Regions from separate parts of the Homo sapiens genome. Here region 1 is linked to region 2. Evidence: fine-mapped expression QTL. A gene starts in region 2. The other region holds a variant in brackets. All regions are shown on one strand. Distances are from middle to middle. Region 1 overlaps LOC105371069 (a long non-coding RNA gene). Region 2 holds the start of LINC02152 (long intergenic non-protein coding RNA 2152).

The links. PIP is the estimated chance that this variant, and not a neighbour inherited with it, causes the effect. A credible set is the group of variants that fine-mapping cannot tell apart.
Region 1: its variant is the best candidate, but not a certain one, in a credible set for the expression of LINC02152 in thyroid (GTEx, PIP 0.56).

What each region holds. Positions count from the first base shown.
Region 1 is chr16:8,084,440-8,089,827 of GRCh38, forward strand. The region is part of intron 1 of LOC105371069 (a long non-coding RNA gene); the gene reads right to left. Among named protein-coding and RNA genes, the nearest start is that of LINC02152, 210 kb to the right of the region's middle. The variant G/C (reference allele first, on the strand shown) is at 2,892.
Region 2 is chr16:8,293,716-8,299,103 of GRCh38, forward strand. LINC02152 (long intergenic non-protein coding RNA 2152) reads left to right here and starts at 2,716. Exons shown (of 2, transcript NR_184340.1): 1 at 2,716-3,045; 2 at 3,413-5,388.

The DNA.
Region 1 (5,388 bases), 210 kb before region 2:
GCCCTGCAGCCCCACTGACAGAAAATCTGCCAGAATGTTTCTTTCCAGGCTTGGTCAGACAACTCAGACACTCCCCTTTTCTATTTGCCTCTCTGGGAAATTAAAGTCTGCAGCCCTTTGGTGACCATATGCTAATTACTAGCCACTTGCTTCTAAAAGGCAGATCTTATCTTATCACTTGGCTGCTCAAAACTTTTCAGTTTGTTTTCCATCAGGCTCAGGGTAAAGTCTAAACTTTTGGACAAAGCCTCTTCTTAAGACTCTTTCTACACTAACCCTGTACTACATGTTCCAGACATTCTGAAGGTCTTTCATTTTCTGCAAAATTATAATTTATTGGCTGACTGGCCAGATGGATGGATGGATGGGTAGATGGTTGGGTGGATGGATGAACAGGTGGATAGATGGATAAACAGATCAATTAATGAATGAACTCCCAATTTCTTTCACAGGGGTACTTAGTTATAGTCCTTAAAATATCTTCCCTTAGTCTAAACCACTCTCTACCTGTGCATGTGTCTGAATCATATTTACTCACCAGGTGTTGAGGTAGTTGTACCCTTCGGTGATGTTTAACTTCACTCATGGTTTTAACCTGTCATCTTGGTTCAGCCTCTGGGAGGCCTCAAGGGCCTGGTAGTGGACATCATTTTCCCTGATTCATGTTACACTTAATTACCTCCCTCTGACAACCAGGCACAGATTTCTAGTGTTTTTCTCTTCTCACTCTTCTATTTTTTTTTAACTCAACCCTTAACACCTACCTATTAAATAGAGATGGCTGCAGTTCTTGGCTCAAATGGAGGGCCAAGATGAGTGACAACTTGTAGTCGAATCAGTCAGTAGATTTTCAACTTCTAACACAACACTTTTCCCCAGGTCTGAAGAAGATCTCCAGGATTATTTTTTCCCAAACTTCATATTAGTTTTGCAATAATAAAAATGCCTTATGCAGAAAAAAGTTAATAATTTTTGAGGCTGTATAATGGATACAATGGGTTCATTATTCCATTCCATTTGCATGGATGCATAGAATTTGTTCTTTTATCCTGTTGAGCTCTACATATTAAAATGAGCAAAGATATGAAACTCATGATACCTAAAAGATGTGTGTGTTTATGTCTATTATTGGAAGAAAGATATAATAGCCCAATTATATTGTAATACAGAAATATTATCCAAAACACAATTATTTTCACTTCTAAATGCCTTACCCCAGTCCCTGAGAATAGACCCACATTTTTAGAAGATGGCATTAATATTGCCCACGTCATTTTATGTTCTGCTTTATTCATTTCATAGTTGATCAAAAACATTTTTTGTATTTCCACTCAGTTTTATAATAATAATTTTTAATATCTGCATAATTTCCTATCAGGTTGATGAAACAACACTGAGTCCATCCATCCCCTATGGATGGACATTTTTATTATTTCTATGTTTTTGTTGCCATTGCTGTCATTGGAGATAATGTTGCAAACCCTAATAAAGGATGCTGAATATAGAAGATCTTATTAAAGTTTTTCATCAATTTTTCCTTTTCCAAAGAGTATTTGATTATCTCAGAACTCATAGTGTCCTTAATTTCTATTTTCATTTTTTCATGGTTTTCACACTTGTGGATCATCTTTCTTAATATTTTGTAATCGTCCCTTCTCTAACTTTAACCTTAAGGAGCATATTAAATACTGCTGGCACAAGCACACAGATCTGGTGTCAAACCAACCTGAATTCAAATGCTTTATCCAACCACTTAATAACTGTGAGAACTCAGAAGTGTGATTGAATATTTCTAGGCTTTAGTGTTCTCACCTGCAAACTGAGAATAGTAGAGACATCATAGGTTTATTGTAGAGTACTTTAAGAAAACTTTTGTTGCTACTCTTAATATTTTTATTATTACTGTATTTTGTTTAAATAGCCTGAAAAAGTTGAGCTCAGAAAAAATAGGACCAGGTCTGAAAACTGTAAAGAAGAATTTTTTTTTTCTTTTTTTGGTTTGATTTATTTGTTTGCTTGTTTTCTTTCCAATTTCCGTTTTCATAACCAGAGAGCACTCTGCTGGCAAAAGACCAATTTTACGGTATCCTCATCTGACTAGCCATACTAATCTTTCTCTGAGATATCTTCCCCTGAAACTACACAATACTCATAAAAATAAATTTTAAGGCCAGGCTTGGTGGCTCACGCCTGTAATCCCAGCACAAGGCCTCGTGGGCAGATCATGAGGTCAGGAGATCGAGACCATCCTGGCTAACGTGGTGAAACCCTGTCTCTACTAAAAATACAAAAAATTAGCTGGACATGGTGGTGGGCACCTGTAGTCCCAGCTACTTGGGAGGCTGAGGCAGGAGGATCGCTTGAACCCAGGAGGCGGAGGTTGCAGTGAACCAATATCGTACCACTACACTCCAGCCTGGGTGACAGAGCGAGACTCCATCTCAAAAAATAATAAATAAATAAATTTAAAAATAAATGGTGACAGTTTGGCCTAACGAATGAGTTTCCCTCATTTTTCATAATCATGGTGATTCACTGAAATGGTTTTGAAGTTTTCACCATTGTTAATAACTTCGTAGTCAATAATTCTGAGCGAAAAATATTTCCTTCAAAGGAGGATTATTTCCTTAGGATGAGTTTTTGCGTTTGGAGTAACTATGTCAGACAATTTAAACTTGACTCATTTTGAAATCATGCTTTTCTAAAGTTTCTGCATTGGGAATAACTATGCTTTTCTGAACTGTTGTACCAATTTTCTTACACCAACTAAACCTTTTTTGGCTCAGTAATAACTAGAGGAAAGAGAGTAGAGCATCCAAAAATAATGAATTCAGTTCACTTCAATATGACAAGATTCATGTTCTGGGAAATATCATACGTGCATATGTCTT[G/C]TTTTATATTTGTTGTTTCAGGCTATGTTTGTGTATCAAATAACCAAACAAATATTTCCATGGTAAAAATATTGTAGCTTCTACTTAGCAACATATAAGCAAAGATTCGGAAATTAACCTGGAAAGTGAAATTATGATGGGAAAAAAACAAAAAGAACATTTACTGTACTAAAAACTCAATGGACTGAGCAAAAATACAATAAATCTTGATTAGGTTCAGTCTAATTTTACCTTCCTTTACGTGTCTCACAAATGTTAGCCGAACAGCAGATTGCTTAAAATAACATTCTGCTTTTAAACTTTTGGGCTTATGGAAATCTTTGCTTGTGGTTGTTGTTATTAAGAAATAGTGATTTTCCTTTACTCTTAGTTATGAAGTTGTTCTAGATTAGAATGCCAAAGTGTGGGACTGTCTAAGCTTAGAATTCCCTCCACCATCCTTTCAGTCTCTCTCCCTCTCTCTCTTCCCCCCACCTTCTCCCTTTCTCTCTCTCTTGTATCTCTCTCTCTTTCTCTCCTTTCCTGTGTCTCCCCACTTCCCAGGCAGATTGCTTCTGTTCTGTCAAATGTTCATTCACCTTTGCTAATGAGTAGCTAATGGGTTTTGGCATCGTGGGACACACAGGGATTGAGAGGGCTGTTTGATCACGGGATGGCCTGGTGTGCTGTGATTGTGCATATGGGATCCTCAAAACCAGCCCCAGAGCCGTTTCCTAGTTTCCCCAATAGTTTCCTGGAACATAGGGTGTTTAGAAATAAAGCTCTATTTTAAAACCTCCGATTCACCACTTTATCTGGCTAACATCCTTCCCTCTTGGAATTGATAACATGTTGACTGTGAGTCATAATGGTAACTTCCTCATGAACATCTGATGTTGTGAAATTAACAAAGTCGAGAACTCCCCAACAGTTAAGCCAAGAAATGAATTATAAAAATGTACTTCAGTCACAATACCAGAGAGAATCCGGTTATGAATTAGTAACAGATGGGAAAATACTATTCACTTTCAATTTTACATAAATGTCTATAATGCTTGTTCTGATCATAAGTTTTTATTTCTTCCAGAGCTTCATTATGGTTCTAGCAAGATTCACCATTAAAAAATATAATAAAAAGCTTGGGTTGGGCAGATGCTATTTTTCTTTCTTCCCTCTCTGCTTGTTAAGCAAAAAAATAAAAAAATAAGTAAATAATTCAGGTGAACAATATATATATACATATCATTTCATTGCTTACTTTTTGCTTTACAAAACAAATTATTATGCATTTCCTCAAACCAGTTAGTCAGGGTATTTATTTTTCTTTTTTTAGATTAGCACCTGTGCCAGAAAGGAAACTGTCAGTTAATGAAGTCTCTAACTCCCTTTTTACTCCATATTACTACAGCTCTCACACAACCTTTAAAAGTAAAAAATATTGAGTATTTACAGCAAATTCTTGACATAAAAACTGTCTCTGTGAATTCACCAACAGTTGAAGCCAAGTGGTTAGATCACAGACAAAGAAAGAAGATAAATGCTCTTTGGTGTTCAGTTTGGTAGACCCCTGGTATATTTCCCAGCCTTGATACTAGTATCAGGCACAAAACATGAGCCTTCTTGGATTTCTCTCTACAGCCTCCTTCCCTGGAAAATTACCACCCACATTCTGGACCACTTGGCTGCCATCTTTGCTGGTGCCCTTGCTAGTTTCCCTGAGTTGGCTGGGGTCAAGGTTGAAGCCCTGGGCCTGGATGATCCTCACTTCCAGTACGCTGAACCATGTTGAGTCAGCCCTCCACTTCTGATCTTGAATGGACTACAACACTGTGAGGTATGGGATCCAACTACCTGAGAGAAGTTCAAGGGCAGATGATATAACCTTGAAGTGTGGAAGATCGGTCCTTCATGGAGTGAAACTTGACCAAAGGGAAATAGGAGATAGAAGGAGCTAGAGGAATAGATTCCTCCTCTTTTCTCTTTTATAGACCCTTCTCCTAAGTGTACATCTTTTTTGCAACACTCTCTGTGAACATCCTTTCTGCTGGGCCACCAGACTTGCTCAGCATACCTGATTTGCCTCTGTGCAGCACTTATAAAGTAGTGCTCAGCACTGAAATGCAATGCATAGCATTACCTCTTATCTTTCCCTGTCTTCCCTCCATTTTCCCCCACAACCCTTATTGTCCTGGGCTTTCAGCTCTCGGAGTATCATTACTGTAATCCTTGCCTCAATCCCTGCTTTCTAGAAATGCACTCTTCTACTTTGGGCATCATAATTATTGGTACTGTCCCTTTTCACTCTTTTAAGTGGTAGGGACAACTTCCCTTCAGAAGAGACAACTTTGGGAAAAAATAAAATGGAGTGTAGTAGTTGAATGGTGGCCCTAAAGAAAGATATGTGCTGATCCTCGGTACCTGTGAATATGGCCATATCTGAAATATAGACTCTGCAGGTGGAATTAAGGATCTCTAGACCTGATAATGCTGGGTTTAGGATGAGCCCTAAATCCAATGA
Region 2 (5,388 bases):
ATCAGAAACTTGGGCGGTTTTATTGCTGCATGGGTGTCTGGCTGGGAACAGAATGAACTTGTCCAGCCTTGCTTGAAAATGGCCTTCTGTCATGGAGATAGAGGGTAGAAGGATGAGTACCAGAAGCTGGGAAGGGTAGTGAGGGGGTGGGGAGGAGATGGGGATGGTTAATGGGTACAAAATAGATAGTTAGAAAGAATGAATTAAGACCTAGTATTTGATAGCACAATATGGGGACTATAGTAAATCGTAACTTAATTGTACATTCTAACATAACTAAAAGAGTATAACTGGATTGTTAACAGGAGGGACGAATGCTTGAGGGGATAGATACCGCATTTTCCATGATGCGAGTATTACACATTGCATGCCTGTATCAGAGCGTCTCATATACCCCATAAATATATGCACCTACTATGTATCCACAAAAATCAAAAATAAAAATAAATAAAAGTATGGCCATTCTGAACTAGCTGATATAAAAGGAAAAAGTTTCCCAGAGAGGCTTCCTGATGCCTCTCCAATAGGGGTGGAAGCGGGGATGGGCGACGTGGGCCCTCCATGGTGACTTTGCCATGGATTCAGAATCCCCTGCCAAGTCTCCTCTCCTTTTTGTGCTCAAGAGCTTTTGGTGTCTATGGCAGTCAGCAAAATAGGGATAATAATACAACTAACAGGGTTGTTGTGAGTTTTAAATGAGATGCTCAAAGGTGCCTAATGCACAGGAAATACTCAATACACTTTATTTTTATTTTATTTTAGCATTATCTTCTCCATTTCCTCTCTCTTGAGAGGAAGGTTAGACTCATCTCTGACCAATCCAGAGAGAGCTAACATAATTCCCCAGAAAATTAATATTATTCCTCCCCATGGCATCATGGATGTTGAGAGCTGCAGACAATGTGGAGGTCTCTGCCCCAGGCTGTCCCTCTTCATTCAGAAAATATCAAAGACCACCTGTCTCCAATGGCTTTCTATGGTGAGGATACTCTATCCTGCTCTTTATGGATATTATCTATTAATTTCCCCATTTGACAGAAGGGGAACCTAAGTCTAAGGGATCATGTGACTTGCCAAGATCCCATGAATAACTAACTTGTTACCAGAACTGGGACTCCAAAGTAAGCATTTTAAACATTCCATTCTTGAGATGGGTGCAGTGGCTCATGCCTGTAATCCCAGCATTTTAGGAGACCGAGGTGGGAAGATTGCTTGAGGCCAGGAGTTCAAGACCAGCCTGGCCAATGTGGCAAAATCCTACACTACAAAAATTTGCCAGGTGTGGTGGTGCATGCCTGTAATTCCAGCTACTTAGGAGGCTGAGGCACGAGAACCCCTGAACCCAGGAGGCAAAGGTTGCAGTGAGCCAATATCATGCCACTGCACTCCAGTTAGCATTTATTGGGTGTGTGTTGGCTGCCATACTTTCTTTGAAAAGCTCCCTGCATATTAACTCAGTCAATCCTGATTTTGATCTTGTGAGGGAGGTACTGTTACGTTCCCACTTCCTAGGTGAGGTATTGGAGACTCAGGTCACTACTTTGTCCCCACAAGCTAATAAATGAGAGACTGGTACCTATTATAACTGATGCCAAAGCCCTGGCATCCTCTTTCCTCTTAGGAATTGCATAATCTGTATTCCTACGAAGATCCATGAGCCTAGCGGGTGCAATGGTACATTCAGCCCTGTAACCAGTGGTTATGACTTGGACAGCTCTGTCCCTCTCCACTCAGCAGAGCCCACTGCCAATCCCTGGAGCTGAGGAGGCAAGCACACTATGGCTGTCACCCTGAAGATGCCCCAAAGTCTGTAGACAAGACAAACCCCAGTCTGGAACAAAAGCTGGCTGCGAATGATCCATCAGCATTCCTAAGTAGGCCACGCTGCGCCATTCACAGTTCCCTCCTACCGTACGTGATAAGCTGTGACATATGGTGTTCATTTACGCCTCCATTCCCGCAGAAATATGGCTGGCACCATCAATTTCCCTGTTTGTGCTGTGACCCACTGTTCCTGGGTTAAGCAGCCTGCCTTGTCTACATTTGTCAGTTGATACAAGCTTCTCCCTGCCATAGGCACCACTATTGATGAACGTCGTCAGAATATGGAACTTTGAACAATGTATAAAGGATTCCACATGCAAAGTCTCCCCAGGAAGAGGTGGGGTGGGTGGGGGTGGGGAGAGGGAGTGTTAGATGTTTTCTCTGTTGGAGTGCCTTCATTTACAAAGCATATTTTTCAAGTCTTTTGCTAAGAGTAATGCCATGGAGCAGCCTCCCATCATTCTTGTTAATAGGACTGTCTGTGTGTTACAGTAAACAGCTATAACTCTTCTGTTGGAGCCGTTGTGCAGCAGGCAGAGTTTGTTCAGTATCCAATTAAGGGTGTCTCCAATTTGCCAGCCAGGATCATGAGAGCTGTGACTCAGCCATCAGGCAACCTGGGCATTGTGGAGGCTTCTCAAAGTAGAGAGGGCTGATGCCCTTCCTCCTCCGCAGCAAGGGGACTGGAGCCTGGCTCTAGACGATCTCTGTTTTGTTTTGTTTTGTTTTGTTTTGTTTTGTTTTGTTTTGTTTTTACATGGAGTTTCGCTCTTGTTGCCCAGGCTGGAGCATAGTGGTGCGATCTTGGCTCACGGCAACCTCTGCCTCACGGGTTCAAGTGATTTTCCTGCCTCAGCCTCCCAAGTAGCTGGGATTACAAGAGTGTGCCACCACGCCTAGCTAATCTTGCATTTTCAGTGGAGACAGGGTTTCAACATGTTGGTCAGGCTGGTCTCAAACTCCTGACCTCAAGTGATTCAGCCGCCTCGCCTCCCAAAGTGCTGGGATTACAGGTGTGAGGCACCACATCCGACCTCTGCTCTTCCTCAAAGGCCACCAAATCATGCCAGCTAACTGTGCAAAGATGTTAGCCTGATAGTCAAAGCTCTTCCCAGACTCTTATAAACATAGAAGAACATAGCGGTTAAGAACATGAGCTCTGCAGCAGGATTACACGGATTCCAATCTCAGCTCAGCCACATACTAGCTGTGTGATGTTGGGTAAGTTACTTAACTTCTTTGAACCATGTTGTCTCACGTTTAAAAAGGGACAAATCATAGCACTGGCTTCATACAGTTGATTTGAGAATCAAATGATGCATGATACACATTTAAACCACCACTACCCTCACATCATCGTCATTTACTAGGCTTGGATACATCTCGTTCCTCACCTCTCTGTGTCCAGTTGATTAGTATTCATCTTTCAAGCTCCATCTCAAATTCCACCCCCTGATGACTGTAATCAACAGGGACTCTTCTCTCCATTAATAGCCATAGTGGAGGAGTGGGGACTTACCATGTACCACGTCCATACCTGACTCTTATAACTACCCTATAAAGTAGGTTCTATCTCCTTATTTTACAGATGAGAACATTGAGGCCTAGGGCATTTCAATAGCTTGCCAAAGGGCTCATCATTCTCGGGTAACAGGATGAGGCCAGACACCAAGGATCCCTGGATCCATGCCCTACTCTCCACACTTGTCTTGGGTCTATGAAGCCCCCAGTCCCAAGGTAAGTCATGTCATTGTGGAAATTAATTGCAACCTTTCATGATTGTCCGATCCCATCTATGGGTTTCAAGGAAGATTATGAAGTCCTTAGAACCACAATGTGTCTAATTTTTATTCTGTATTTTATTTATTTTTAAATGTCTGAGATGCTGAGAACCTGAGATATCACTCATCTCATCTTCCTGAATTTTATGAACTAAGAAGCGAAAGCTCACCCAAAGCCATTTATAGAGTCTATGGAAAAAGAAGGACTAGACCCTGGATTCCGTGATTTACAGGTTTTTCTTCTCCTAATTTTCAATCCACTCCAAAACATGCAGAGAGATGACCTTAGCAAAGATGTTTATTAGTGTACGTTGGTGCTGTTGTTTCGGGGAGGGGGTCGGAAGGTCTTGGAATCACTTCCTACTGTGTAATCTGCAAGCTTCCCACTGCGTCTTCCTCTTCCTCTTTGCTTTTTCCAGAGATATAAAGGGTGGCTGGTGCCATTCTTCCAAAAGGAAAGCTGTCATCTTTACTCACTCAGTCCTCAGCAAACTATCTGAGCACTATTTTTGTGCCTCATCTGGGAGCTGGGGAGTCAGTGATGGGCAAGATATGGTCTTTACTTGCAAAATTCCCATAGCACATTGGAGAAGAAAAAACAGCAATCAGGTATGTGCGCTACAGGGGGGTGCATGCTGCAACCACCAGCATCAACAACAACATGCATTGAATGCTTCATGTATATCAAGTGCTCTCTCTCCTAAGAGATATGAATGCATTAACCCCATTTACTCCTCAAGACTAGAAACAAACACTTTATAATTTGCTACGGACTGAAAATTTGTGTCCCCCTAAAATGTATATGTGGAAGTCTTAATCCCCAATGTGATGATATTTGGAGGCGGGGCCTTGGGACATAATTGGGGTAGGGTGAGGTCATGAGGGTGAAAACCCCATACTGGGATTGGTGCCCTTAGAAAGGTATAAAGGGACTGGAGCATGCAGTTTCTCTCTCTCTCTCTCTCTGTTTCTCTCTCTCTCTCTCTCCCTCCGCCGTATGAGCACGCAGCAAGAAAGCGGCTGTGTGGCAACCAGGAAGACAGCCTTTATCAGAATCCAGCCATATTGGTGCCCTGATCTCAGACTTTCCAGCCTCCAGAACTGTAAGAAATAGATGTTCACTGTTTAAGTGCCCCAGTCTATGGTATTCTATGATAGCAGCCCAAACTGACTAAGACATCATTTCTTTTATCAGATGAGGAAACCAATACATAGAAAGACTTTTAAATTTTCCCTAAACAATGGAAGTACATGCTAAGTGCAATAGGGGTATGTAGAAAAGAGTGTTCAGATTTTAGGGAGATTTCCAGAAAAGGCCTCTTCATGCTGGAGATGGCTTTTTTTAAATAATGGAAGGGAGTTCCCAAGGCAATGGTTGAGCAGTGGAGTGGGAGCCCAGGTAAGAGTATGCAGGTGGTAGAAACAAAATATTCTAAGACAGACGGGCACAAAACAGCATGGCTTATTTGGGGAACTACAAGTACCTCTATGTTGCTGATGCCTGATGTTCTAGAGGACACATTTCAAGGCAGGAACAAGCTGAGGGCATATCTCAACCTCCCCTTCCTCAGGGGCACTCATCCTTCATCCCTTTAGCAGTTTTACTCAGCATTTGTTCTAGGATGCCAGGCTGTGAGGTAAGACAGGTAAGTGAGACTCAGCCTCTACCCTCAGAGTTCACAATCTAATGGGAAAACTAAATTATCATAAAGATAGCATTACAAATGCAGTGCTTGACATATGCCTGGAGCACTATGAGACTGTAGGTGAGAAGCAACGAAAA